Regions from separate parts of the Homo sapiens genome. Here regions 1, 2 and 4 are each linked to region 3. The links come from fine-mapping of genetic effects on gene expression. A gene starts in region 3. Each other region holds a variant in brackets. All regions are shown on one strand. Distances are from middle to middle.

Region 1 (8,024 bases), 220 kb after region 3:
CCTAATAGTCAACCTTAATGATGGATGTGGCAGAGAGAAAATTACAGCTCCTCGCTGGACAATGCACCCAACACATGGAAAAACATAGGAAGAGGTTTGGTCTTTGAGTTATATAATCAGCCTGGATTTTTACATGGCAGAGAGAAGGGTGAAGGTAGATGCATATTGTACCTTTTTTGTTTTCTGAAAAAAGTTTGCAAATGAGGCTTTGATTTGTATATGTCCACTTCATCTGGGAACTCCATTACTAATTCAGGGAAAGAGTTGCTGGACCAATTGAACAATTTGTCTCTCAGATATATGCAGGAAAATGAAATATCCTATTAGTTAACAGAAAATTGTCCTGATACATGCAGTAAAAGGGAATTAAAAGCATTGTTTCCAAATTGATTGTGCCAGACAAATTTGGCCAAATATAAGTGCATGACAATATCCTCTTATGGTCTTGCACTTTGCTTTACAGTTATTCCAATAGAACTCAGTATTTTGGGTCTGTACACCAAGAGGTGACATGAGATGGAAGCTGGGGTCATTATGGTTAACCTGAATGTGTCAGAAACCAAGCAGAGGCTGAATGTTATTATATGCAGCCTGTGAATCAGAGTGAATGGTAGAACCAGGCTAAACTATACATTGCAAAACAGGTGCAATGTTTGGATGGAATGGTCACCAACAGTATCCAAATAACCAATAGCTGGTTGATGGGTGTTATTTACCATACCAAAAACCCAACCTGCAGGGACACATTGTTCAATTGATCTGAGATCCCAACCCACTTCCACAAAAGGAAAGAGGCTCAATTAATAGGAGCTAACAGAAACAGGTAAAAGGAAAGCAGACAGGCATGTGCACAAGAGATTTGTAGACCTTCATGTGAAGAGGAGAATGTTAATAAAAACTTCTTGTGCATCAGCATCCTAAAATTCTACTGTTGCAGCTGCTGGTCTGATTTTCCTACAACATGGGGAGGTGTTTGCAGTGAAGATATCTTCTATTCCCACAAAGAGTAGTTTTTCATCTTTAAATCTTTAAAACAAAGAAATCTGAAAGCTAGAAAACAGCCAGGGATTTCCAAATTCAGTGTTTCCTAAATTCGTCTGTGCTACAGAATTATCTGTGATGCGTGTTAGACAGAGATTCTCAGACTCTGACAGCATCTCCAGAGAAATAGCTGGGATCGCTCTACTGAGCAAGCTCCCTGCTTATGCTCAGGCGTGGGCAGGTCTGGCAACATGATGATTGCACATCCAAATTGTACCAAAAAGAAAAACAGGTGCACAGAAATGATACACCCAAGGTCCCTAGGAACACAATAGAACCAGGACTGAACTTAGGTCTCAAGCACATAAAAATCCAATCTTATTTAATTTCCATGGTAAGGAGGCACACATCTCACAGTGTGGGTTTCAGGACCACAAAGCCTAAGGTTTGGTTGCTTAGGGCAGTAGGTGATTGGACCAAACCCTTCTATTCAATCCTCAGCAAGAAGTTCTGCAGCTCGATACCTTAGAAAAGATGCAATCACTCGACTCTGAAAATTCCCTGTTAGCTTGTCAGCTGGGGCTGCTTTAATTTTACTTTTAGGTCATAATTCTATTTAATACCACTGAGCTCTGTTCTATTGATCACTGGGCTTGACTCAGCACTGATGTTTTTGAGGAATTGACCATTATGTCTGAAGTGTAGGGTAAAGCGGGTATCCAAGGAGAAGAAGAGTGTTTGAGGCCCTATGATTTCCTGGAATATTACCCATCTGGGAAATTGTGTAGGAGTCCATTGGAGGAGATATTTTAAAACTCCAGCTTGGCAGAGGTTTTGTGGAAATGGACACCTAAATCAATTCGAGAGCAGCCTATGAGAGCTAGAATGGGGTCGGCAAAGTTAACAGCTTTTTTGCCTGAAGGAGTGGGGGCAGTGGGGTATGGAACAGGTATTCTTGCTGGCTTGTAGGTGGGTGAGCAGGGAGAAAGAGCTCTAGTCTCTCTTTTTCCTTTTCTTTCTTCCTTTTTTTTTTTCTTTTTTGAGACAGGGTCTCACTCGGTCGTCGAGGGTTGGAGTGCAGTGGCACAATCACAGCTCACTGCTACCTCCACTTCCCTGGGCTCAGGTGACCCTTCCGCCTCAGCCTCCCGAGTAGCTGGGACTTATGGAGGTGTGTCACCACACCTGGCTAATTTTTTAAAAAACTTTTTTGTAGAGACAGGGTTTCACTATGTTGCCCAGGCTTGTCTTGAACTCCTGAGCTCAAGCAATCAACCCACTTCAGCCTCCCGAAGTGTTGGGATTACAGTCTCCAGCCACCATGACTGGCTCCTCTTTCTCTTCTTATTTGAGGACAATAATCTCATCATGAGGTCCCCACACTCATGACCTCATCTAAACCTAATTACCTTCCAAAGGTCCCATCTCCAAACACTATCACATGGAGGATTAGGGCTCCAGCCTGTGAATTAGTGGGGAGGGGCACAGACATTCAGTCCATAATAGGAGGTGTCCTTACCTTCAGCCCCGTAGCGTGGTTGAACCTTGGTGGGGATGGAGAAGTGCTATAGAAAAGACCAGATGGATAGCGAATCTGAGAACATTAAGGTTGCATTAGGAGGCCACTGACTGTGGGAGTCTAATACCCAGAAGTAAGCTGCAATCTTAAGAACAAGATGAGATCACTTACAGGAAAGAAAGAACATTTGGGTTTTTTTTATTCTTCTTTTTTTTTGTGCACACATAAGTCTCAGTGTGTAAAATTTGACACCAGGATGTCCATATATACACATTCACACACACATAGGAGAGACAGAGGAACATAGTAGGGGTAATATCCATAATGGTAGTTATCTCTGGATGGTAAAATTATGTTATTTTATCTTTTTTCATTGACCACTAGTGCGGATTTTTCTAACATGGATTATTATTTATATATATAATTTATAACAAAAACTTCCCAATATATCTTTTCATAAGATGTCAGTTATTTTCAAAGGTCACTTGTGTTGTGTCTGCATCTTTCAAAATCATAGGTTGTAAACTCAAGCATTTAAATTCTTTTTTTTCTCCCCAGTGAAAAGATAGGAGATTTGTTGCTGTTGTTTGTCTGGTTTTTGCGCAGGACTGACAAGTTATTTTGATGTCTTATAGGCACAACCTAAGTAATATAATTTGGTTAAGTTGGAAAATAAGCATTTTGCAGAGCTTTCTCCTAGGCTTTCAACAGCACAAGATTTTTATGCCCTTCTCACGATGAGACCGAAGTGAAGACTTTTTTTCTTTTTGAGACAGGGTCTCTCACTCTGTTGCCCAGGCTGGAGTGCGGTGGTGTGATCTCAGCTCACTGCAATCTCAGCCTCCCAGGTTCAAGCAATTCTCCTGCCTCAGCCTCCCAAGTAGCAAGGATTACAGGCACCCGTTACCACGCCCAGCTTATTTTTGTTTTTCTAGCAGAGATGGGGTTTCATCATGTTGGCCAGGCTGGTCTCGAACTCTTGGCCTCAAGTGATCCGCCCGCCTTGGCCTCCCAAAGTGCTGGGATTACAGGTGTGATCCACCGTGCCTGGCTGTGAAGACCATTTTTGAAACTCCAGTTAGGGAGATGTCTCCCACTGTGTGGCCGACCCCTTCCCATCCACAGATGAATGACTTAGTCATTACCTTTTACAAAGAAAATTCATTTATTTTTTCATCAACGCTTTAAAAATAAAAACAAAATAAAGCTAGACATTTTTTTCTGATGGGATTTGGGAAGAAAGATTAAAAAAGTGTAAGAAAAGCCTTTAATGACTCTGTAATATTTAACACCTAAACAAAGCGGCTTAGTACCAGTGGGAGCTGAAACTCATTAAAATGAAAATTATATTTGCTTCATCAATGCTAAAATAAATCCAAGGGAAAACAAAGAGGTACTTTTGTAATTAAATTTAACTTACTGTCATAATCTCAATTCTCGCTATTTGCAACTGTGGGAGTTATTCTCAAAAGGATGTTTAAGGATAAAGTTTTAGAGTCCACAGTATTCCAAGTTTGGGATAAAATTGAGATGATTCAAAGGAGAGAGAAAGAGGAAGGGGTGTCAGGTGGTGGGGGATTGAGAGCTTCAGAGAAGCCAGGCGGAGTGCCCGGATGAGGCTTCCCATCTCCTGTTCTCTACTGTGTTGCTGGGTGGAGTTCTCGCCTCCCTCAAGGGATAGCATGGAAAGAAAAACGTTGTTCCAGTGGTGTCTCCTCTGTCAGTACAGTGGAACAGGGAAGAATCCTGTGGAGTGAGACGGCCTCTTCGAGAGGA[T/G]TTCTAGAATTGGGACCCAGCGGGTGGAGGAATCACCTCAAACAGTGTGAATGTTCCCTAGAGAGCTGAGCAGTCTCTGACCTGGTCGACATAACCACTCACCTGCTCAGAACGGCCCGTGATATGCTGCTGAATACCAGAAGGAGCTGTCGCCTGTTACTGGGTGGTAGCTACCTACCATCCCCGGAGCATTTGTTACATGTCAGGCCCTGTACTAAGTAAACACTTTTCATATACTATCTCACTCAATATTCACAACAACCTTAGGGTACAGGAATTATTGTTCCTATTTTTTAAGAATACAACTTGAAAATTTATTCTCATTTCTTCATGGCCACACCTTTCATTTGATTGTGGTGAGATATACATAACAAAATTTTACCAAAATTTTAAGTGTACAATTCAGTATTAAGTATATTCACAATGCTGTGGGACAATCACCACCACCCATTTCCAGAACTTTTTCACCATCCCAAACAAAAACTTTGTACCCATTAAACAAAAACTTCCTATTCCTTCTTCCCCCAACCACCTGGTAGCCACTAGTCTACTTTGTCTCTATGAATTTGCCTGTTACAGATACTGCATATAAGTGGAATCATGTATTTCTGGCTTATTTCATTTAGCATAGTGTTTTCAAGTTTCATCCATGTTGTAGTATCCCATTATATAGGCTAGGAAACTGAGACTTATACTAAATAACTTGCCCAGGACCACAGAAGAATTAGTGACAGAGGAAGAATTCATATCCAGGGATGTCACACTCCAAGGTCCATGCTCTTAATCATCCTCTACCAAGTGTTTCTCCCAATGCAGACCACAGACCACTAAATCAGAATGACCATGAGTGCTTAAAAAACACAGATTTCTGGGCTCCACCCTACTAAGATAATCCTTCTAAACGATAATCCTTGTACTTTTAACACATTCCCCAGTTGATTCTTATGCAAAACTAAAGTTTGTGAATTACTTCATTCTTCTCTATTGAAAATGCAACTAAGGAAAGATGGCGGCAGAGAAAATGAAGACATAGTTACAAACTCAAGGCCAAGTGATCTCATGGAAAAGGAGAAATGAGTAGGCAAGTGCTATGGTTTGACTAATAGTGTCCCCTCCAAAATTCATGTTGAAGCCTAATCCCCAATGCAACAGTATTAAGAGGTGTGGCCCTTGGGAGGTGACTAAATCATGCAGGCTCCACCCTCATAAATGGGATTAGCACCCTTATAAAAGGGCAGAAGGTGGAAGGGAGCATTCTCTTGTTCTTTTGTCTCTTCCACCATGTGAGGACACAGTGTTCCTCTCCTTCAGAGGAGGCAGCAATGGGAACCATCATGGAAGCAGAGAGCAGCCCTCACCTGACACTGAATCTGCTGGTGTCTTGATCTTGGACTTCCCAGACTTCAGAACAGTGAGAATTTAAATTTCTATTGTTTATAAATTACCCAGTGTGTGGTATTTTGTTATAGCAACACAGACTAAGACAATAAGCTCTAGGAGTTGTCAAATGCCTATATATTTTGTTGGGGTCTCCTGGAGGGATTTCCAACGCATCCACCCTATTTGCCCTTTGTGGCCCCATGAGTCATCCTTTCATGAAGTGAAAAGATACATCTCTTATAGTCATGCCATATTTTTCATTCCAAGTTTTACGGTTTATGTCAATATGTATTATGTATGAAAAACAAACTAGCTTTTTGTCAAATGCTGCCAAAATGTAGCATCTCAATGTCTGGCATAAGAAAAGAAAGACACAAATGGTGATTGTGATGCTGGCAAACCAATGCACAACGTAGCCAAAATACATGTCATATTTAATGTGGGACTAAAAACTCACCTTCAGGAAGACTTTCACCTTGAAATCTGGTGATGTGTGGAACAGATGTTTTAATTTAGCTAAAATTATTTGCATAATCGATTTAACACATGGTTTATCAAACCTGCCAAAGAGCAGGTGACAATATGGAATTAATATGATTACTAATTTGACACATCATTGAGATTAATTTGACCTTTCTCGATCTCAGAATACCTAGAGGTCTTCACAGACAGGAATAGTGTGCTATGAAATGCAGTCTAAAATCCACCATCTTAGCATCATAAAGTAAGCAACCACTTTGCTCAGTCTGGCCTCATGTTTCTATTCCTTTTCTTTCCATCTCTTCTCTAAATGGAAAGGAAGGCAATGAGTGAATATTGGGGAACATATCTGATTCACAGTGTTCAAAATTTTATGAAAAGTAATTGATCTAACGTGCCTCTGATACTAGATGTGGTACTGCCTTCTCCCTGGTCTGTTGATTTATCCTTGAATCTAGACTCAAAGGATATCACCTTTGAGAATTAATTGGCTTAAGCCTTTAGCTTTAAGTCTAAAGACTCAAAATAATGACTTTTTTTTTTTTTTGCGATGGAGTTTCACTCTTGTCACCAGTTGTCACCCAGGCTGAAGTGCAATGGCATGATCTCGGCTCACTGCCACCTCCACGTCCTGGGTTCAAGCAATTTTCCTGCCTCAGCCTCCCAAGTAGCTGGGAATACAGGTGCACACCACCACACCGGGCTAATTTTTGTATTTTTAGTAGAGATGGGGTTTCACCATGTTGGCCAGGATGGTCTTGAACTCCTGATCTCAGGTGATCTGCCCACCTCGGCGTCCCCAAGTACTGGGATTACAGGCGTGAGCCACCGTGCCCGGCCAAAATAATGACTTTTAAATTGTATATCAGTTTGATTACAATAGTAAATTATTCTATTAGAAATAATAGAAATGTTTATTAATAGGGAATTGATAAAATAAAATAATATCGTATGCGAGTAAAATGCTGTGTGCCCATTTAAATGATGTGGAAAAAGTATATTTAATGATATAAAAACATGTTTGTGATATGTGACATGAAGAAATCATATTGCATCTCTGAAAAATAACAATAAAAACGAGAAATCATATTGCAAATTAGTATGTGCACTATAAGCTTATTTTTATAAGAAAAATTATGTACATATCTAAAAGGATAAATATCAAAACGTTAACCATGGTTATATCTACATGGTAGGATTAAGGCTGATTTATGGTTTTTCTTTTTTATTTATATTTTAAACAATTTTTTAAAACCATGAACATACAATTTTTTGGTGTAATAGAGAAAAAAGTCAATCAAAAAAATATTTGTGAAGTGAGGATGGCAGATTGAATCAGCATCCAATTTTACTCTCTCCCAAAACTCCATTAAAGTTCCTACACACACACACACACACACACACACACACACACACACACAACCATGAAGGAAACAACAGCAAGAATGTTTTGGAAGCTGGAAACATTTTGGAAACTGGTTTGGTAGGCTCGCAAAAGCCTAACCTCAAGGCTGCAGTAGGTAAATGAACCAAGCTGCTTTAGGCTGCAGAATCCTGCCTAGGATTGCCACTGGGGATGGAGATGGGAAGAGGGAAGAGGCAAGGGCACTGAAAGAAGGAGCACTGGGAAAGGTTGTCTGAGAAGCTGCGAGATCTCAAGAGACGGTCTCTCCTTCGTCATTCCTCAGCCCTTGAGCCCCTCATCCTTCACCCAACAGGAGTATGGAAGCTTATTCTCTGTATTATGGACACTAGACACAGTTGGAAGTCTGATCGTCATACGCAAAACAGAAAGAATAAGTGATCTTATGCTCAGCAAATCCCGGCTGCAGAGCCCTCCCTGACCTTTCCACTCAGGTCCAGGACACCAACAGCCAGACTCTGACCC
Region 2 (7,696 bases), 25 kb after region 3:
TCCATTTTAATGTCTAATATGGAAAATATCAGTAGATAAAATCATTGGCAGCAGGGTGCAGTAGCTCACACCTGTAATACCAACACTTTGGGAGGCCAAGCCAGGCGGATCACGAGGCCAGGAGTTCGAGACCAGCCTGGGCAACATAGGTAAACCCCATCTCTACTAAAAATAAAAAACTTAGCTGGGTGTGGTGGTGCACATCTGTAATCCCAGCTACTTGGGAGGCTGAGGCACGAGAATCACTTGAGCCTGGGAGGCGAGGGTTACAGTGAGTCAAGATGGCATCACTGCACTCCAGCCTGGACGACAGAGCAGAGCAAGGCTGTCTCAAAAAATGAAAAAGAAAAAAAGTCAGTGATGTGCTGCTAAGCAGGATCTCCACAAAAAGAAAAAAAGCCTGATCTGGCAAACTAGCATTTGCCAATTTTGATGGTGTGAATACTCCCTTCTTTTCCAGTTTCAAGCTCCCAACTGTTTAACAGTTGGCTTGACAAATTTCCTGAATATTGAATTCTTGTGAGCAGGTACAAGTTGACTCCAGCACACCAATGGATGCAACCCACATAAACAAAGGCTCTTTGCTGGTCCTCAATAATTTTAAGTGTATTAAGGTGTTCTGAGCAAAAGAAGTTTGAAAACCACTGCCCTTATCCAAGATGTCCCAACTTTATTGACTTGAAGAAAACAGATAAACTGGTAATTATTATAAAAGCATAAAAGCAAACAGGGGTAAAGAGTTGGCTTAGAGCTGCAGGCACCACTCTGGGTTTCTGGCTGTTTCAGAGCTGAGGGGTTCCAAGTCTTGGAGCAAGAAACTGATTCAACATCCAGGCTCAGTGGCTCACGCCTATTATCCCAGCACTTTGGAAGGCTAAGGCGGATGAATGGTTTGAGCCCAGGAGTTCGAGACCAGCCTAGGCAAAATGGCAAAACCCCGTCTCTACGAAAAATACAAAAATTAGCCGAGCGTGATGGCTCATGCCTGTAGTTCCAGCTACTTGGGAGGCTAAGGTGGGAGGATGGCTTGAGCCTGGGAGGCGGAGGTTGCAATGAGCCAAGATGGTGCCACTACACTTCAGCCTGGGTGACAGAGTGAGACCCTGTCACAAAAAGAAAAGAAAAGATACTGATTCACGTCATCAGGTATGGTGTGGTCCACAGAACAGGAAGCTCTGTGTGAGGTCTGATTTTCAGCCACCTGCTGTGTAAAGGAAAGAGAGAGGTGCTTGCTGAGCAAAGTTTCAGACCAGAAGACCAAGAGACAATTCAGAACAGCAGCAGATTCTACCCATGGTGGCATTCCTGTAAAGTGAAACTCAAGCGCCAAGTTTGTTGTCATGGGGACTGTTGATTGCATGCTAGTCTTATGGAAACACACGGAAAACCAGAGGTCAAATTCAGTAGCATCTCAGAATTCAGATAACACAGCATGTACAGTTTCAACCCAGCAGGCTGTGTGTTTATCACTTCAGGAAATGACTCATAAGCAGTAAGGAGATGAGCTTTGAAAGCTGCATCTGGCCAGGGCACGGTGGCTCACCGCTGTAATCCCAGCACTTTAGTGAGGCCGAGGCGGGTGGATCACCTGAGGTCGGGAGTTTGAGACCAGCCTGGCCAACATGTGAAACCCTGTCTCTACTAAAAATACAAAAATTAGCCAGATGTGGTGGCACACACCTGTAATCCCAGCTACTCAGGAGGCTGAGGCAGGAGAATTGCTTGAACCCAGGAGGCAGAGGTTGCAGTGAGCCGAGATTGTGCCATCCAGCCTGGATGACAAGAGCGAAACTCCATCTCAAAAAAAAAAAAAAGAAAAGAAAGCTGCATCTATAGTAGCCTGCATGGTGGCAGGGCCAGTCTGGCTGTTTTGCCTATCTTAATGACTACATCTGCAGGTCATTTTGGTGTGCTGCTATGCGACCCATCCAAGGAAGTGAAAACACCACGAAGGGTGGGCTGTCCAATACTGAGATGCATTCGTGAGCAAAACCATAATCATTTGATATCTATTTTTGTTGTTTTGTTTCCTATCCTGGGATATCTAGTTGCTCTTGAAACTAGCTGACACATATTTTAAAAAAAACAAGACAAATAATATATTCCCATCCTCCAGAAGCTAACTGGCTTTGGGATTTAATCCTAATACTTAATGTTTAGTTAGGAAGCACAAAATTTGAAGACCTCAGATTTAGAATTTTATCAGCTCTGCCTTGTAACAAGTTTTAGAAACTAAATCAGTTGGCCAGGCCTGGTGGCTCATGCCTGTAATCCTAGCTTTTTGGGAAGCCAAGGCGGGCGGATCACCTGAGGTCAGCAGTTCGAGACCAGGCTGGCCAACATGGTGAAACCCTGTCTCTACTAAAAATACAAAAATTAGTCAGACATGGTGGCACGTGCCTGTAATCCAGCTACCCGGGTGGCTGAGGCAGGAGAATTGCTGGAACCCGGGAGGCAGACGCTGCACTGAGCCGAGATGGCACCACTGCACTCCAGCCTGGGCAACAGAACGAGACTCTGTCTCAAAAAAAAAAAAAAAAGAAAAGAAAGAAAGAAAAGAAAAGAAACTAAATCAGTTCTCAACTCTGGTTGCGCATAGAATCACTGGAGAGCTTCTAAACAATTCCAGTGCCAATCTCTGGGGGCGAGGCCTGGACATTGATATTGTTTTCAAGCTCCTCAGAAGATTCTGATGTGTAAACCAGGGTTGATACTAAGAAAAGAAAAATCCCTCAGCAGTCTGAGCTATGTGAGGTGTGCAAAATTTATTAGGCCCAGAGAGACGGGAGTAGAGGACTTCAGTCACACCCCCGGCACATACCCTCCCCCTACCCACCACCCCCCATGCCTGTGGGCAATTATTTAAAGTCATTTTGTTCCTGGTGGTGTGGTAGCTCATGCCTGTCATCCCAACACTTTGGGAGGCCGAGGCGAGAGGATCCCTTGAGGTCAGGAGTTTGAGACCAGACTGGTCAACATGGTGGAACCCCTACACTCCTAAAAATACAAAAATTAGCCAGGCATGGCAGCATGCTCATGAAATCCCAGCTACTCGGGGGGCTGAGGCAGGAGAATTGTTTGAACCCAGGAGGCCAGAAGGTAGAGGTTGCAGTGAGTCAAGATGGCGCCACTCCAGCCTGGGCAACGGAGAGAGACTCCATCTCAAAAAAAAAAAAGGCATTTTGTTCCTGACTAGCTACATTCCCTGTTATCTTCATGTTCCTGGAATCTGTGATACAAAGAACAATGTGTATCCAATCAACAGCTTATGTTATTTTAATGTAAATTTTGATAAACAACTTAGGAACTGCCTCTTTTCCTTTATAAACATTCACATGCAACTGCTGCTAATCAGATTGTATATTCAGGACAACTTGAATATACACTTCAATATACACTGGGTTGCAGTCCTCAAGCTTGGCCCAAATAAACTCTCTACTTATATTAATTTTGACTCAGCTTCTTCCTTTTAGATCAACAATACCACTGTTTTTGAAAAGTGCTTCTTAGCTTATATACTGCTGGTGGGAATGTAAAGTATTAGTTCAGCCATTGTGGAAAGCAGTGTGGTGATTTCTCAAATAATTTAAAACAGAATTATCATTCAACCCAGCAGTCCCATTATTGGGTATATACCCAAAGGAATAGAAATCATTCTACCATAAAGACATCTGC[G/A]CACAGGTGTTCACTGCAGCACTATTCACAATAGCAAAGCTATGGAATCAACCTAAATGCCCACCAATGATAGACTGGATAAAGAAAATGTGGTACATATACCCCATGGAATACGATGCAGCCGTAAAAAAGAACAAGATCACGTTCTTTGCAGCAACATGGATAGAGCTGGAGGCCATTATCCTAAGCCAACTAATGCAGAAACAGAAAACCAAATACCACATGTTCTCACTTATAAGTGAAACTAAACATTGAGTACACATGGACACAAAGAGGAGAACAACAGATACCAGGGCCTACTTGAGGGTGGAGGATGAGAGGGAGAGGACTGAAAAACCACCTATCGAGTACTATGCTTACTACCAGGGTGATGAAATAATCTGTACACCAAACCCCCAAGACACACAATTTACTTATATAACAAACCTGCACATGTACCCCTGAACCTAAAGTAAAAGTTTTTTAAAAAAGAAAAGAAAATAGTGTTTCTTGGCCAGGTGCAGTGGCTCACATCTGTAATCCCAGCACTTTGGGAGGTGAAGACAGGAGGATTGCTTGATGCCAGGAGTTTGAGAGTTTGAGACCAGCCTGAGCAACATAGCAAGACCCTGCTAAAACAAATGTAAGAATTAGCTGGGTGTGGTGGCACACGCCTGTAGTCCCAGCTACTCAGGAGGCTGAGACAGGAGGATCCTTTGAGCCTAGGAGTTCAAAGTTACAGTGAGCTGTGATCTGTCTGCTTCTCAAACTTTAACCTGCATACAAATTACCAGAGTCTGCTGCAACTGGTCCGAGGCTGGGTCTGCCTGTGTAACAACTTCCCAGGTAAAGTTAAAGTTGCTCCTTTTGGACTATGCTTTGAATAGCAGTGCTCTCAGAGATAGCCCCGAGGCAGAATTTGGCTAGGTTGCAGGTCCAGGGATCCAGAAAATCAATTCTCATATTCTTAAAATCATTTTCTGAGACAATTTTTTTTTATTCTGAGAAAATTGGGGCAATTTTTAATGTAGTGGCAGCATATGTTCTTAATCAAAATTTGTTGTAGGTGATATCTATCTTGCTGTATGCTTCCTCTCCTCTTTCTCCCTTCTTTGGTTCTTTTCTAGGGAAAAAGATAGCTTAAATGGCTCTAATCTTATACATAAAACCATTTCAGAAGACACTGGGGGTTTAAAGTGGCAACTCCCATTTTTTAAAGATAGTGCCCGGCAGATAGCGGCAGCGCCTGGTTACCAGAAAGCAACTGTGGATATTTTTCCTGTCTCTGGGTCTGGCTGAAAAATGGTGACCTCAGGGAAGCACTAGGGTGCTACTTAGCATTCAGGAGCTTCAGTCTTGATGGAGCTGGAATGAGAAGTTTTGCAAACCCAAAGGCAAATGAGTCAGCCCAGGGATCATCATCAGAGGATCCATGATTCCACTGTGCCTGGGGAAAACCAAAGATTTTGTTAATCAACTCTGGGAACACATTTACAGCACATTCAGTAAACTTGGAGTAAATTCGTCATTATAGAAGCCCTCTTACAAGTTGATTGAAAAAACTAAATGATGAAAGAAAAACTACAATTTGTTAGCCAACGTGGGAAAAAATGTTACATCTCAGCGATAATCCAATAGCTGCAATTTAAAACAAGATAACACCGGCTCGTGTCCAATTAACAATGATCTTTTTCTATGATGGCTAAAACAGCTCCCTAATAAGTATTACAGAAGGAATGGAGGAAATAAGGAAAATAATATAAATACCAGAAAGGGTAAGATAATGTCGGTGGACACACTTTAGGAAAGCAATTTGACAAAATGTCATCATCCTTACATGTTCATAACCTTTGACCCAGTTGTATGACTTCTGGGAATCTATCAAGAAATAATTACAAATAACATCAAAAAAAGTAATAGGCTTCTGGTTGTTAATAGCAGCCTTATTTGCATGTTAGCAGAAGACAAAATTCCTCTAGATGTGTAATTTTAAAGGACTTCTCCAGAGACTATTATACCCTTTAACAATGAGACGTTTTAAGTGTATGTAACGACACAGAGCAGTGCTTATAATGTTTAATTTTTTAAAAAATAAGATGCAATGATATACAAGCAGTACAAAACCAACAAGATGGGGAAAAATAGATCTAAGTCAAGGCAAAGACTAATGAGAAATATACCAAGATGTTTAAACTTGCGTTTTGGTAATTGGGTCATTTTTTTTCCTTTAAAGTATTTTCTACTTCTCTCTTTCCTGAGTATGTACTGCCTCTCTAGCAAAAAAGCAACCCACATTAAAACAAAAGTAAAATAATCTGAAAAAACAAACAAATCTTTCTGACCATCTCCTAGCCACAATTAGTATTTTGTGCCTCAATATATTATTCAAGCAGGAAATAATGGTGTTAGGAAATCATATGATTCTACATATAGTTGACATCTTCAAGATTCTCCCAAAATATCTTGTGGAACTCTGAAATTCTCAAAAACATAAAAATATCTTTAGCCATGGCCAGGTGCAGTATCTGACACCTGTAATCCCAGCTACTTAGGAGGCTGAGGCATGAAAATCGCTTGAACCCTGGAGGTGGAGGTTGCAGTGAGCCCAGCCTGGGCAACAGAGCGAGACTCTGTCTCAAAAAAAAAAAAAAGAAAAAAAAAAAAAAAAGTCATTAGCTATACTCTGAAGCCAGAAATGTTTCTATTTGTCCCCAGCAGCTACCAGAACATTCAGTACAGCATTCTGTCATCATAACCAGAGCACGACTTTTTACTCTGATAGTCTTTATACTTGTGCCAAAAGGGCTATTCATTTGTTTTCTTCTGGAATTCATATTTCCTCATCAAGCAGCAAATATTATTTTTGCAAAACAAAACAAAAACTTTGACTGATTTTATTGCATAGTTATGTTAGTCCTCTTATTCTTGAAATTAATGAATGTGTGTAACCCACATTCTATTATTCAGTATTTTAAAAATCTGATTAATTATCCCATAAGCTCTTTTTAAAACATACTTGAGCTTTATTTAATTTCTGCATTCTTTGACCCATGTTGTTGGATCCTTAATTTCACTTATTCATTTTCTTACAATTATTAAATGGTCTCTTACATGGTGAGACTGAAGCTGGTATCCATAGGCTTGTTGCTTCTGTATAATGAAGGCAGCTTCAGTAGTCGATTGAACCACCCAGCAGTGACTACATTCAGTGCTTCTGGAAATGGAGTCCACAAAAGTCTTTTGAGCTGCTTGTTATAATGCAGGTTTTTGGTCTCCATCCCGGACCTAAAACCAGAATGTTTGGGATAGGACCTGGATCATCTGCATTTTTAACAAGAGCTGGGGGTGATTCTTATGCAAACCAAACTTTGAGAACCATGGATCTAGTTTTTACATGAAATCTCTAACCTAGTAAACCACAGTTTATTTGTTAAAATGCTAAAGTTTTTCAGAGTTGACCTGTATATTATCATGTCTCTCAGTAAAGTTATCGGAATATTAGTATTCTTTAGCTATAACCCCCTAGATATTGACCCTAAATATCTGACTATATCCACTGAAAGATTTAACCTTACAAACAATTGTCTCTATCACTTACTCTGCCTTGTCTCTCCTCTCCTCTAGAAATACAAGTCAATGCCCTGTATTCATGTAGGATTTTTATTGTATTTTTTTTAATAGGTAACACTCATATGGTTCAAATTTCAAAAGAACAAAAGGATATACAGTGAAAAATCACCCTTTCCTTTCTGTCATCTCCTGGAAGACAACCACAGTTAACAGCTTCTTGAGTATGGTGTTGAATCTATTTAAAAAACAATCTGGAAACTCATTATTACTTTTGGTAGGAAAGCTAAAAGAGAGTATACAATAAGCTTTTTTTTTTTTTTTGAGACGGAGTCTTGCTCTGCTGCCCAGGCTGTAGTGCAGTGGCACAATCTTGGCTCACTGCAAGCTGCCCCTCCCAGGCTCAAGCAATTCTCCTCCCTCAGCCTCCCAAGTAGCTGGGATTACAGGCATGCGCCACTATGCCTGGCTAATT
Region 3 (8,024 bases):
TCTTAAGAGCACATAAACATAGGAACTTTGTGAAGTCTAAGGACAAAACAAAAAACAACATCACTAACAGACCATAAAATTAGAAATCAGTCACAAAAAGCCAGTCAAAATATCCAAGAATTTATGGTTGAAGATTGAATGAAATTGACAAAATATTTAGACCTGAATTTTATATATGCACATATCAAAACTTGCAAAATGTAGCTGATGTGGTCTTTTGAAGGAGAAGAGGTAAAAAATAATCAGTTCAAAAAATTATACTAAAGAGGCCGGGCGCGGTGGCTCACGCCTGTAATCCCAGCACTTCGGGAGGCCATGGCGGGCGGATCATGAGGTCAGGAGATCGAGACCAACCTGGCTAACACGGTGAAACCCCGTCTCTACTAAAAATACAGAAAAATTAGCCGGGCGTGGTGGCAGGCGCCTGTAGTCCCAGCTACTCAGGAGGCTGAGGCAGTAGAATGGCGTAAACCCAGGAGGCGGAGGTTGCAGTGAGCCGAGATCGCGCCACTGCACTCCAGCCTGGGCGATACAGCGAGACTCCGTCTCAAAAAAAAAAAAAAAAAAAATTATGCTAAAGAGTAAACTCAAAGAAAGTAGAGGAAAAGAATGAATTAAAAATCTGTGTTTATAAATAAAAATAAAAGTAACGGAGCAAAAAGACGGGCATTAGAAAATAGTCATTTCTGACCTCTGGTCAGATAAAGGGAAAAAAGCAAAAAATTAGCTATGTTAGGAATATAAATGGGGACAACACTACAGATAAAATAGTTTTAGAAGACTAAAATTTATTATATGTATACAAGGGAATAGTATACTATTTAAAAAGAATTAGATAAACATGTACCAAACAAGCCTCAAAAAATACAACTGGCAGAAATATTCCTAGAAGGAATCCTTTAGTCAATATGCACAAAGCATTTAAGCATTTCATTATTTTTGTTTTTTTTTTTTTTTTTGCTTTTGTTTTTGTTTTTTTGAGACAGAGTCTTGCTCTGTTGCCCAGACTGGAGTGCAGTGGTGCAATTTTGGCTCACAGCAAACTCTGCCTCCCAGGTTCAAGTGATTCTCCTGCGTCAGCCTCCCAAGTAACTGGGATTACAGGTGCACACCACCAAGCCCGGCTAATTTTTGTATTTTTAGTAGAGACGGAGTTTCTCTATGCTGGCCAGGCTGGTCTCTAACTCCTGACCTCAAGTGATTTGACCGCCTCAGTTTCTCAAAGTGCTGGGATTACAGGTGTGAGCCACTGCACCCAGCCTTCATTGTACGTCTTTTTGTCACTAGAGGTACATTTTGTTCTAACAACTAAGACCCCAAAGCATCCTTTTAAGCTTTATCGTTTTGTAAAATGGTTAAAAATAACATTTTCCACCAATGACACAGATAAAATTTTAAAATGTGGTGGTATTATTCCATTCTTATTTTAAGGATATACATATATGCAATTTGTATGTGGATATGATTTTTTGAATGGTGAACAGAAACTTAGTGGTCAGGTAGCTGGATGCGGTGGCTCATGCCTGTAATCCCAGCACTTTGGGAGGCTAAGGCGGGTGGATCACCTGAGTTCAGGAGTTTGAGGCCAACCTGGCCAATATGGTGAAACCCAGTCTCTACTAAAAATACAAAAAATTAGCCAGGCGCGGTGGTAGGCGCCTGTAATCCCAAGTACTCGGGAGGCTGAGGCAGGAGAATCGCTTGAACCCAGGAGACGGAGGTTGCTGTGAGCCGAGTCCGCGCCATTGCACTCCAGCCTGGGCAACAAGAGTGAAACTCCGCCTCAGGAAAAAAAAGAAAGAAAGAAAATAAGAAAGACAGAGAGAGAGAGAGAGGAAGGAAGGAAGAGAGGAAGGAAGGAAGGAAGAGAGGGAGGGAGGAAGGAAGGAAGGAAGGAAGGAAGGAAGGAAGGAAGGAAGGAGGGGAAACTTAGTGGTCAGATGGCAACTAGGGGAGGGGAGGCAGAAGGTAATTTATTTTTCATTTCATATCCTTCAACTATCAGAAATTTTGTCATATGTGTTTATATTTTCCACTGTGTTTCATTGATTCTAAAATGCCTTTTCTTCATAACCCTGAAATTGGAGTGTTTCTTACAATCATTGGTATGTCACATTTTTTTCTGGCTTGTGGTAATGGGTTAAAATGATAAATTGTAAAATCAATGACGTCTTAGGAATAATGAAAAATAGTTTAATAGTGAATGAAGAACTATGTAATTTTAACTGTTCACATTTACTCTTGGGTATGTTTCCAGAGGATAACTGAACGGGGATAGATTTTAAAAAGCTTTATTTAACTGGGTACTTCCGCAATTTAGTGATCAACTTCTGTGTACAACAAGGTACTGTCCTTTGAGGATGATGGGAGAATACAGGGAAGAACGAAATCGCCTCTGATCGTACTTTCTCCACGGATGTAAGTGTCCGGGCTCTAGTGGGGGAATGATACTCTTCGTGCGAAATTCACTTTTAAAAAAGGCTTAGAAAACTGACCACCGGCTCTCAGCTGCAGCTTATCAACCACAGAACTCCGAATATGCCCGCACATCAGTGCGCTGGGTTAAGAGGAGAAGGGGCTGCGGCTGAGCTTTCCTAGAAACAGCTATTTGGGGACCCATTTCCTGTTGGAGTCTGAAAGGCGCACGCACCAGAGCCAGTGGCAAAGCAACTTAAGCTGCAGGCTCCTCCTGCCCACCCCCAGCCGCGACGCCCCTGGGGGCCCTTAGCAGACTGCCAAGCGAGTGTCCCCGCCCTGTGCCTTGAATTTAGCCAAACTCCTTTAATATCAGGCCTGGCGCGGTGATTCACGCCTGTAATCCCCGCACTTTAGGAGGCTGAGGCAGGAGGATCGCTTGAGGCCAGCAGTGAAATTAGCCGGACATGGTGGCGCGCGCCTTTCTGTGGTCCCAGGTAATCCGGAGGCTGGGGCGAAAGGGTGGCCTGAGCCAGGGAGATCGAGGCTGCAGTGAGCCGTGTTGGCGCCACTGCACTCCAGCCTGGGCGACAGGGCAAGACCCTGCCTCAAAAACAAAACAAACTGTAATATCGTTCAAGAACGTGTGAAGGACACTTGGAAAGTTACCAGGCCATTTCTCTCCTGGGCGCCCGCGGCCCTAGAACGCCGGCCTCACCGGCAGACGCGCGCCCTCCTCCCAGATGCGCAGGTGACCCCGGCGGGCGGCGCGGGAAAGGGAAGAGCTCCGCGAGGCCGCGCGGGGGGGAAGCGGGAGAAGCCGCTCTTCCTATTCCACTCGCAGTCTGCGTGTGGGGGAAACGAGTGCCCGGCGTATGAAACGCCTAACTTCGCGAAATAAAGAGAGACGTATAAAAGTTCAAGAATTCTGTCCAGACTCAAGGGCCCTTTCTCATTTAGGGGCAACCCTGTCACTACATCATAAACTTTTAAATCCGTGATCCCCACGTTACAAAAGCAGAAGTCCCTTTTAGACTTTTAGCGAAAACTGAACTTTGCCGGTGTCCCACACGGAGGGAGGGAGGACGGGAGGCCACGCCAGGGCTGCGGGGCTGCAGGGCGTGGACGCATCCTGGCCGGGGCGTCCACTGTCGACGTCTCCACATCCCAGGAGGGTCGAGACGGCCGCGGGAAGCAGCCTGCGAGCCGTGCGGCCCCATTCCAAGGACCCCGCCAGTGTGAGTCACTGACAGCTTCGCGAATCAACGGTGCCCAGAGGAAAAAACTTCTCATTTGGACTTCTAGGCCCGGCAGTGGCCGGCGGCCAGGGCCCCCCAGTAGGGCAGGGCGGGGCGGGGCGGGGCGCACAGAGCCAGAGGGGCTTGCGAGCGGCGGCTGAGGGACCGCGGGGAGGGGGCGCCGAGCGGCTCCAGCGCAGAGACTCTCACTGCACGCCGGAGGGCGCCCTTCCTCGCTCGCGCCCGCGCGACCGCGCGCCCCAGTCCCGCCCCGCCCCGCTAACCGCCCCAGACACAGCGCTCGCCGAGGGTCGCTTGGACCCTGATCTTACCCGTGGGCACCCTGCGCTCTGCCTGCCGCGAAGACCGGCTCCCCGACCCGCAGAAGTCAGGAGAGAGGGTGAAGCGGAGCAGCCCGAGGCGGGGCAGCCTCCCGGAGCAGCGCCGCGCAGAGCCCGGGACAATGGGGCCGCGGCGGCTGCTGCTGGTGGCCGCCTGCTTCAGTCTGTGCGGCCCGCTGTTGTCTGCCCGCACCCGGGCCCGCAGGCCAGGTGAGAGATGCACGGGAATGGGGTGCGCGGGCGGAGGGACGCCGAGGGGAGACTGCGGGGGTCACTGTTGCGCCTTCTCCTCACCCCTGCCTCAGTTTCCTCCGAAAGCCAAACTGGCATTTGGGCTGAGATCTGGAGTTTTTTCCAGTCACGTTTAGGTGGGGCGTGCCACCCCCTTCGCGGGCCCAGCCGATGCCCCTTTGGACTCGATCTTGGAGGGTGCAGCCCGCCTGCCACGGGGTGTTGGATATGGAGGAGGATGGAGCGGAAGCCCCCTGGGGGAGCCTGCAGTCCTGCGTTGCACTTGTCATTGTGTTTCTCCCAGGACCACCCCCAAAAAGAAAAGCTCTCACGTTGCTCCACCAATAAACGTTTCGATCTTTAAAATATAAAGTGGCGAACCGCTGCCGCTGAAGTTTTGCTTTGTTGGAAGTTTTTTTCTTGCACATTTTACAGGCGAGAAAAGTGATGTAGAGAAAAGCCCAGGCAGTCCCTTGGCATGTTTAGCAGAGAATCAGTACCAGCAGCCCCCGGCCCGGCCTTGTGTCCAGGAGGTGCGCAGGGTGCGAGATATATGGTGACAATAGCAGAGGCTCCGCGTGGTGGCGGGGGAGGGGACATGGAGAGGATTTTGTTGTTACCTAGAACCCATTCCTTCTAAGTGAGTTGAAGAGAGAGATCCCTCCCCAGGACCGGGCTCCCTCGAACACTGTGGGATCCCAGTATTTCTTAACGAGATTTCTGATCCACTGCAAGAAGGTTGCTCCCCTAGAATATTTTCCCCACTAGTAGTCTATTTTTAAGTATCTGGCCACTTGACCAAATAAATAAATTTGATTAATTTATTTGGTCAAATATTTTCTGTATCCCTTTCCCCAAGAGCAGCACAGATGAGTTGTTTTTAGCCTGTAAAGGCGCTAATTAGAAAGTGAGAAAAGTGTTTTTGAATTTCCTAATAACAATAGTATTTTATAAGCTTTGAGCCATTTTTTTTACGCTGAAAGAAGTTCTAGCGGGTTTTCTTGTTATCGCTAAAAGAATGTGCACTCTATATTGCTCCCACACTCAAAAAAAAGTGTAGACACATCAAGATTAAGAGGTGACAAAGACATAGCATGTTCTCGCCTCTCTGTCTTTGTTCAGGGTGAGTTTTGAGATGCTTTTGGGAAAACTAAGAGCTCCAGACTGGGGCCCAGTGTTTAGCAGTAACTAGCCTGCCTGCAGATAAGTGAGCATTGTTGCCGAAAGTGTTTGAGAGAACACCGAGAACTCCTGAAAAATTGTTTGCGATGAGATATGATTTCACATACCATTATGTAATTTGCACAATGTAGTTTGAGGACACGCTCTTGAGAATCCAGTGTTTTGTTTGAGATTTGGATCATGGGGTGGAGAACAGAGCTTATAGAAATGCTGCACCCTTTCTCACAGTGGCCTCCCAGCAAGGTGTGTAGCCTCATTAGGGAGTGAAGTCAAAGCGTACTGGTTTCTGCCAAGCTTCTTACATCCTCATGGCAGGAGTGGTGCATGTTAATATGGACAGTGCTGGTGTAGACAGAAAGGCAGGTGGATGAACTTGGCTAGTTTATCAACACTGGATTCTGGAACCACTTTGGGAGGGAAAGAAGAAAGGAGTATGATAGAGGAAAAGGAGCGCTTGCTAAGTGCCATATTCCATGTCAAGCCCTGGGCCAGAAGGAATTTTCACTTGGATTGTCTCATTTCACCTTGTCAAAACACCTTGTTAAGGTGGGTATTTATCCCCTTTTGCTGATTCTGCAACTAAGACCCAGAGACAGCGGCTAAGCAAGTGGTGGCGGGTGGGGCAGGGAAGGGGCAGTCCACCCACCCTGGGTGCAAGCAATTAGGAATAAGTGGGGCTTTGTCTTTAGAAAATTTAAAATCACTAATAAAATCAACCCAAGATAGGTTTACTTTCTATTACCACCATGCATTGACAATTCTAAGCATTGTCTGTCATAAGGTAGTGGTGCTGGGACTCTGAGGCATCCAACAGTGCCTCCCATCCTTGAACCGCCACCGCTGTGATAGAGTTTATTGTCCAGGATTACCAGCTCTGTGTGCCAAGAGGGGCGGTGAAGCCCTCCCAGGGCTGGCCCTGACCACCAAGCTGAGCCTTCCTCCAGCACTTCCCGACTTTTTGTTCCCACTCATTTTGGCATTTCCTGCCTTGTCACTTTGTGTGTGTGTCTCATTCTCCCAACTAAGATTATAAAGTTTTATTTATCCCCATGGTGACTAAAACAAATGTTCACTCAGCAGATAGTTGTTGAGAAATGTGTAAATTCATCAACCAGTTTACATTCGTCTAGACAATTTAAGTGAGATGATATGTGATCATTAAAAGGGCCAACATCCAAGAGTAAAAGGTGATGTTTATAAATTTTATGGGGCTCTAGAGGGTTAAAGTGTTCAAGAATAGCTGGTGGTGACTATGACAGAGAGAACTTGGTGGGCAATTCCACTTGCTACCCTCCTACTCACAGAGTCAAGCCCAATTCTCTGGCATGGAATGAAGTGCTCCTCCCCTTGCAGGAGGGTCCCCAGCCCCTCTCCAGCCATCTCCTATTACTCACCCTCCAGTTCACCCAGCCCCATCCTCTAGATCCTCCCTTCAAGGAGCTATGCTTTCTCTGGCTTCTGTCCGCATGCCACTCCCTCTGGCCAGAATGCCCTCCCCATATCCCATACCCGCCACGTTCATGTTTAATTAAAAACAGCTACCCTCTGTGGAGTACTGACTACAGCTGACATCCTTCTTAGGGACGTTACAATACTATCTTATTTATTTCTCACAACAGCCCTTTGAGTAGATGTCATCCTCATTTTACTGGTTATAAAACAGAGACCCAGAATGGTTAAGTCACAAGTTGAGAAAGAGGTGGAATTGGGACTGGGTGCGGTGGCTCATGCCTGTAATCCCAGCACTTTGGGAGGCCAAAGCAGGGGGATCACTTGAGGCCAGGAGTTTGAGACCAGCCTGACCAACATGGTGAAACCCTGTCTCTACTAAAAATACAAAATTAGCTGGGTATGGTGGTGCACACCTGTAGTCACAGCTACTTGGGAGGCTGAGGCACCAGAATTGCCTGAACCTGGAAGGCAGAGGTTGCAGGGAACTGAGATTGTGCCACTGCACTCCAGTCTGAGCAACAGAGTGAGACTCTCTCTCAAAAAAAAAAAGAGGTGGAATTGGGAGTTGACCACAGGCCTGTCTCTCCGAAGTGCAGGCTTTCTCTAACACCCCCTATAGAAAGGAAGCCATCTAGACTCCCAGCACCTCTTACAGTAGAGAAGTAACCCCACTGTGCTCCCTAGTACAGTATGGATTTACCTATTTTTGATAATTCATCAAAATATAGAAGCAAAGTCTGTGCCCTATCGCCTTGGTAGCTCAGGCCCAGCACAGGGAGGTATTTAGTGAGCATTTATGCACGGACTGTGGTATTCTCTCATTTACTTTCGCTAACAGATGATAAGGCAGGCTCTGAAAAGATCCCTGCTCATGAATACACTAATTAATCAGATGTTACAAGAGATATTGCTAGTAAACCTAAACAGAAAGACAGAAAACTGAGCAGTGGTTCTACCGTAAGCAGACCAGAAAGCTCTATAAAGCCTGAAAGTCAGATTTCTTATGAGTCAGCAAGTAATTTTCTGCCCTACTATCTATCTATCTATCTATATCTAATAATTTTTAGTGGCTTTGCCTTTATTTTTATAGAACATACCAGCATAGCAGGTTCTCAGGGTCTGGGTGCAGTGGCTCACACCTGTAATCCCAGCACTTTGGGAACCC
Region 4 (4,003 bases), 40 kb before region 3:
TGACTGTTCTCTAAAGAAGGGGCAATACTTCAGTAGCAAACACAGCTCAGTTATTATCATCAGTGGAAGTCCTGTGATTCCATTACCATCTCATCTTATGTTTAATTTTTAGAAAAACTACTCAGCTGAAGTTGACTGGAACAATTGCTGTGTGTTTTTTCCTCACTCCGCCTTTTTTCCATTATTTTCTTTTGTCATCTGTTTTATATGTAGTTATGGATTGAGGTATATAGCCAAAGTACTGAAGAATTCGATCCATGAGAAATTCCCCGATGCAACAGAAGATGAGCTATTAAAGGTAGATTTTCAAGGGTAATCTCACCATAGCTTCTCCTGGGGGTATGAATCAAAATTACCAACATATAACTTTGTAAGATTATTCCCCATGTATGATTATTTATAATAAGCTGCAGGTCTTCTGTTTCTAATGACTCTCAAGATAATTGATTAAGCTGAGGTTAATTTGGAGATCCTAGACATTATTGAAATTCTTTGCATTAGAGCATTTTGGGGGCAATGAGCATTTTTTCATCAAAAATAACTTTGCAAATTATGCTATTAATAATGTGTGATTATATTCATTGCCTTTATTAAACTCCTTGTTAGGATTTACATCAGAAAATGATCTGCTTTCTCTTGGGAAATGTAGGAGAATATATATCTTTAAAAAAAAAAAGAAAACTAAAACTCTTGAGTTTTCTCTCTTAAAAATGGTCATGCACTTCTGCGTCACTCCAGATTGTTGGAAACCTCCTGTACTATCGGTACATGAATCCAGCCATTGTAGCTCCAGATGGCTTTGATATCATCGACATGACAGCTGGAGGTCAGATAAATTCTGACCAAAGGAGAAACTTAGGATCAGTGGCCAAGGTTCTTCAGCACGCAGCCTCCAACAAGCTGTTTGAAGGAGAAAATGAGCATCTCTCATCTATGAACAATTATTTATCAGAGACGTATCAGGAATTCAGGTGAGAGGGGCCCTTAGTTTTGGAGAAACGTGCAAGAATGGTAGGCAAGAATAATATGTGCTCTGTGCCCAGAGCTAGAGTGGGCATGGAGGACAGGAACCCCAGGTGGTTACAAGCATTTCTTCTACCAGCCACTGGGGAAAGAGGAGAGAGGGAAGTGCAGGCAAGATTGCCTCTGTCTGGCGATCCTATCGCACCCCCACCACAGCACTCCTATTACACTGAGTCTTTTCTGTGTGTATTATTTCTGCTGCTGACAAAATGGCATACTTGTTCTTCCTTGTATGCTACAGGCTTCCAGTACCTAGAATTTAAAAATCAAAATAGCAGATTTCTGCTTCTTTCAACTTAAGAAGAGAGGAATCATTTTTAAAAAGTTTTCCGGTGAGGAAGAACTTGCTTATCTACGTCAGATACATTTGACCCTTGATTAACACAGGTTTGAACTGCTCGGGTCTATTTATATATGGATTTTTTCAACCAAAGACAGAGAGAAAATACAGTATTCATGGGATGCAGAACCCACATATACAAACAGATGACTTTTCACATACATGGGTTCCACAAGGCCAATTTCAAACTTGAGTATGCACAAATTTTGGTGTGTATGGGGGTCCTGGAACCAATCCCCCAAACATACCAAGGAACGACTGTAGTAGGAAATGGAATACTTGATTTTGAAAGGTTAGGAAAACCCAGATTTTATATTTGTTGATGATTGT[G/A]TATGTGAATATGTTCTGTTCTATTCTCAAGCCTTTCTTAATGACACATGTAAGAAGATTTAATTCTATTGATTTTGTGTTTCCAAATTATATCACTAATCATTAACAAGAAAGGCATGAGTCTGGTAGTCAGATTCACTCCTCCTGGAGCTCTGAGGAAACACTTTCCTCTTGTCATGTTTGTTCTCATGTCTGCCATTTAATCAACAGGCCATAGAAGTGTAACATCAGTTTGGCCTCTTTTAATCCTCACTTGGAAACTCATTTCTCATTCCTCGGTCTCCCTTGGAGTGAGTGACTTACTAGAAAACAAAGGTAGTTCATGATTATTCATTTCTATTTAGAATTTGTGGTCTTTTGTGAGAAAATTGCCCCAAATCCTCCTACTACAGAAAGTGTTGATTTTTCAAGCTAATTTTTCATTCTCCTCACTGACTAACAAAGTAATATCCAGGCTGGGCAACATAGGGAGACCTCATCTCTACAAAAAATTTAAAAAATTATCTGGGCATAGTGGTAAGCACCTGTAGTCCCAGCTACTCAGGAGGCTGAGATGGGAGGATCACTTGAGCCTTGGAGGTCAAGGCTGCAGTGAGCCGTGTTTGTGCCACTGTACTCCAGCCCAGGTGACAGGGTAAGACTCTGTCACACACACACACACACACACACACACACACACACACACACACACAAAGTAATATCCATTTCCCACATTTCTCATGAACTTTTAACTGCTGTTATTCCTATCAGTCATTTATGTTCCCACCTATTCTTTATTTAAAAAGAAACAAGACCAAAGAAGTGAGCCTCTTCTAAACTTGTCCTTTCTTCCACTCATATTTATCCTTTGTGTTTCTCAGAAATCTACAAAAAATTATAACCAAAGCAGCATAGGAAAGCCGACTGTTACATGGGAACATGCTCCCCACAACAGGGCTCTGCTGTTTAACCTCCCCCAGCCTCTGGCTGGGAAAGCAGAGGTCATTTCTGGTACATAAGACCCAGGTGCCTGTAGGAGAGATGCCGACAATGATTTCAGGCATATGAAACATTTACAACTTTATAGAATAAAATGTATATTCGACCTGCACAAGAATTGTTTAGGCAAAAAATACATAGAACTATTCAACTGTGATCACAGCATGCCTCACTTCTCTTGATCTCTGTCAAAACTTGCTTTAGCTTAAAATAGACTTTTTAGGGTCTGAGTCCTGGGACATGTTATGTATTTGGGTGTCTAGCCTTAACAATCTTTCCATCGGCCAGCAAATATTTGCAGCAACGAAGAAGAGTAGACTTAATCTCATTTTTGTCAAACTGGTAACAGAAGCTCTGAAGGGTGATTAGGGTGATGTAGGCCCAGGAGCCTGTGCTGTTTAAAGCAGCAAATTTGACTAATTGCTTTTTTTTCTATTGTATTCCTCACACAGACTTGATTCTTAGATCAAGAATTATCATTTTTGACTTTTTAAGTTTCAGGGACCATTTTTAAAATAACATTTTTAAGATGACCTACGCATAGGTCACTATATCACTAAGTCACAAACAGGGCCTGAGGCCCTTGCCACTCTCTCCAATCCTGTTTGAGGAGCTGGGTCCAATATCCAGAAACATGGATGCAGCTCCGACAGCCAGGAGCCAGCCTGGAAGAAGCTGTAACACGTCCTCTCAAGGTTTGAGATGGGAACAAAGTACATGTCATCATTCAAAATTTCCTAGCTATTTTGATGAAACTGTTTAATGCACATGTTTGAGTCTGTCTTAAGACTTTTCCCCCCTTTATTAGGAAATATTTCAAAGAAGCATGTAATGTCCCTGAGCCAGAAGAGAAGTTTAATATGGACAAATACACAGACCTGGTGACAGTCAGCAAACCAGTCATTTATATTTCAATTGAAGAAATCATCAGCACACACTCAGTAAGTGGGGATGGGGAGCCATCTTAGCAATGGACCCATGATTTAGGCATCTGTTATCTTGAAAATGCTTAATCTCTACAGGACTTATTGTACACATGTGCTAATACTCATATTCTTAACCCTAAAAATCTCGCAATTATTTATTCCATGACTCTTATACATTAATAAAACTCCTTCTCCCAAACAACAAAATTCTATTTTTACATAATTATTCCCTGACTCCTAGACATTAATAAAACTTCTCCCCAAAAAAGAAAGTGTACTTTTGGCATAATCCATTTACAAAGCCAGATTGTGACTGGAATGGTGGCATATGCCTGTAATCCCAACACTTTGGGAGACTGAGGCAGGAGGATCACTCAAGCCCACAAGTTTGAGACTAGCCCGGGCA

Which allele goes with the higher level. Alleles are on the strand shown, and positions count from the first base shown. SD is a standard deviation of normalised expression in the study named. Not every link is listed here.
With allele G in place of A in region 4, the expression in sun-exposed skin of the gene that starts at base 3,935 in region 3 is lower (moderate effect, 0.56 SD a copy in GTEx).

The links. PIP is the estimated chance that this variant, and not a neighbour inherited with it, causes the effect.
Region 1: its variant is fine-mapped to the expression of F2R in sigmoid colon (GTEx, PIP above 0.99).
Region 2: its variant is fine-mapped to the expression of F2R in whole blood (TOPMed, PIP above 0.99). The same link has a PIP of 0.9 or more in blood mononuclear cells.
Region 4: its variant is fine-mapped to the expression of F2R in sun-exposed skin (GTEx, PIP above 0.99).

Annotation. Positions count from the first base shown.
Region 1 is chr5:76,929,101-76,937,124 of GRCh38, forward strand. It overlaps a transcript of S100Z not described here. Among named protein-coding and RNA genes, the nearest start is that of CRHBP, 20 kb to the right of the region's middle. The variant T/G (reference allele first, on the strand shown) is at 4,277.
Region 2 is chr5:76,737,738-76,745,433 of GRCh38, forward strand. No RefSeq gene overlaps it. Among named protein-coding and RNA genes, the nearest start is that of F2R, 25 kb to the left of the region's middle. RefSeq lists enhancers at 1,183-1,512, 1,613-1,682, 3,816-3,895. The variant G/A (reference allele first, on the strand shown) is at 3,676.
Region 3 is chr5:76,712,192-76,720,215 of GRCh38, forward strand. It overlaps F2R (coagulation factor II thrombin receptor), which reads left to right and starts at 3,935. Exons shown (of 2, transcript NM_001992.5): 1 at 3,935-4,204. The coding sequence starts at 4,117. It overlaps NCRUPAR (non-protein coding RNA, upstream of F2R/PAR1), which reads left to right and starts at 212. Exons shown (of 1, transcript NR_028375.2): 1 at 212-697. RefSeq lists a silencer at 3,741-3,990 and enhancers at 5,784-6,284, 6,285-6,785.
Region 4 is chr5:76,673,739-76,677,741 of GRCh38, forward strand. It overlaps IQGAP2 (IQ motif containing GTPase activating protein 2), which reads left to right. Exons shown (of 36, transcript NM_006633.5): 26 at 214-298; 27 at 739-971; 28 at 3,480-3,612. Among named protein-coding and RNA genes, the nearest start is that of NCRUPAR, 37 kb to the right of the region's middle. The variant G/A (reference allele first, on the strand shown) is at 1,694.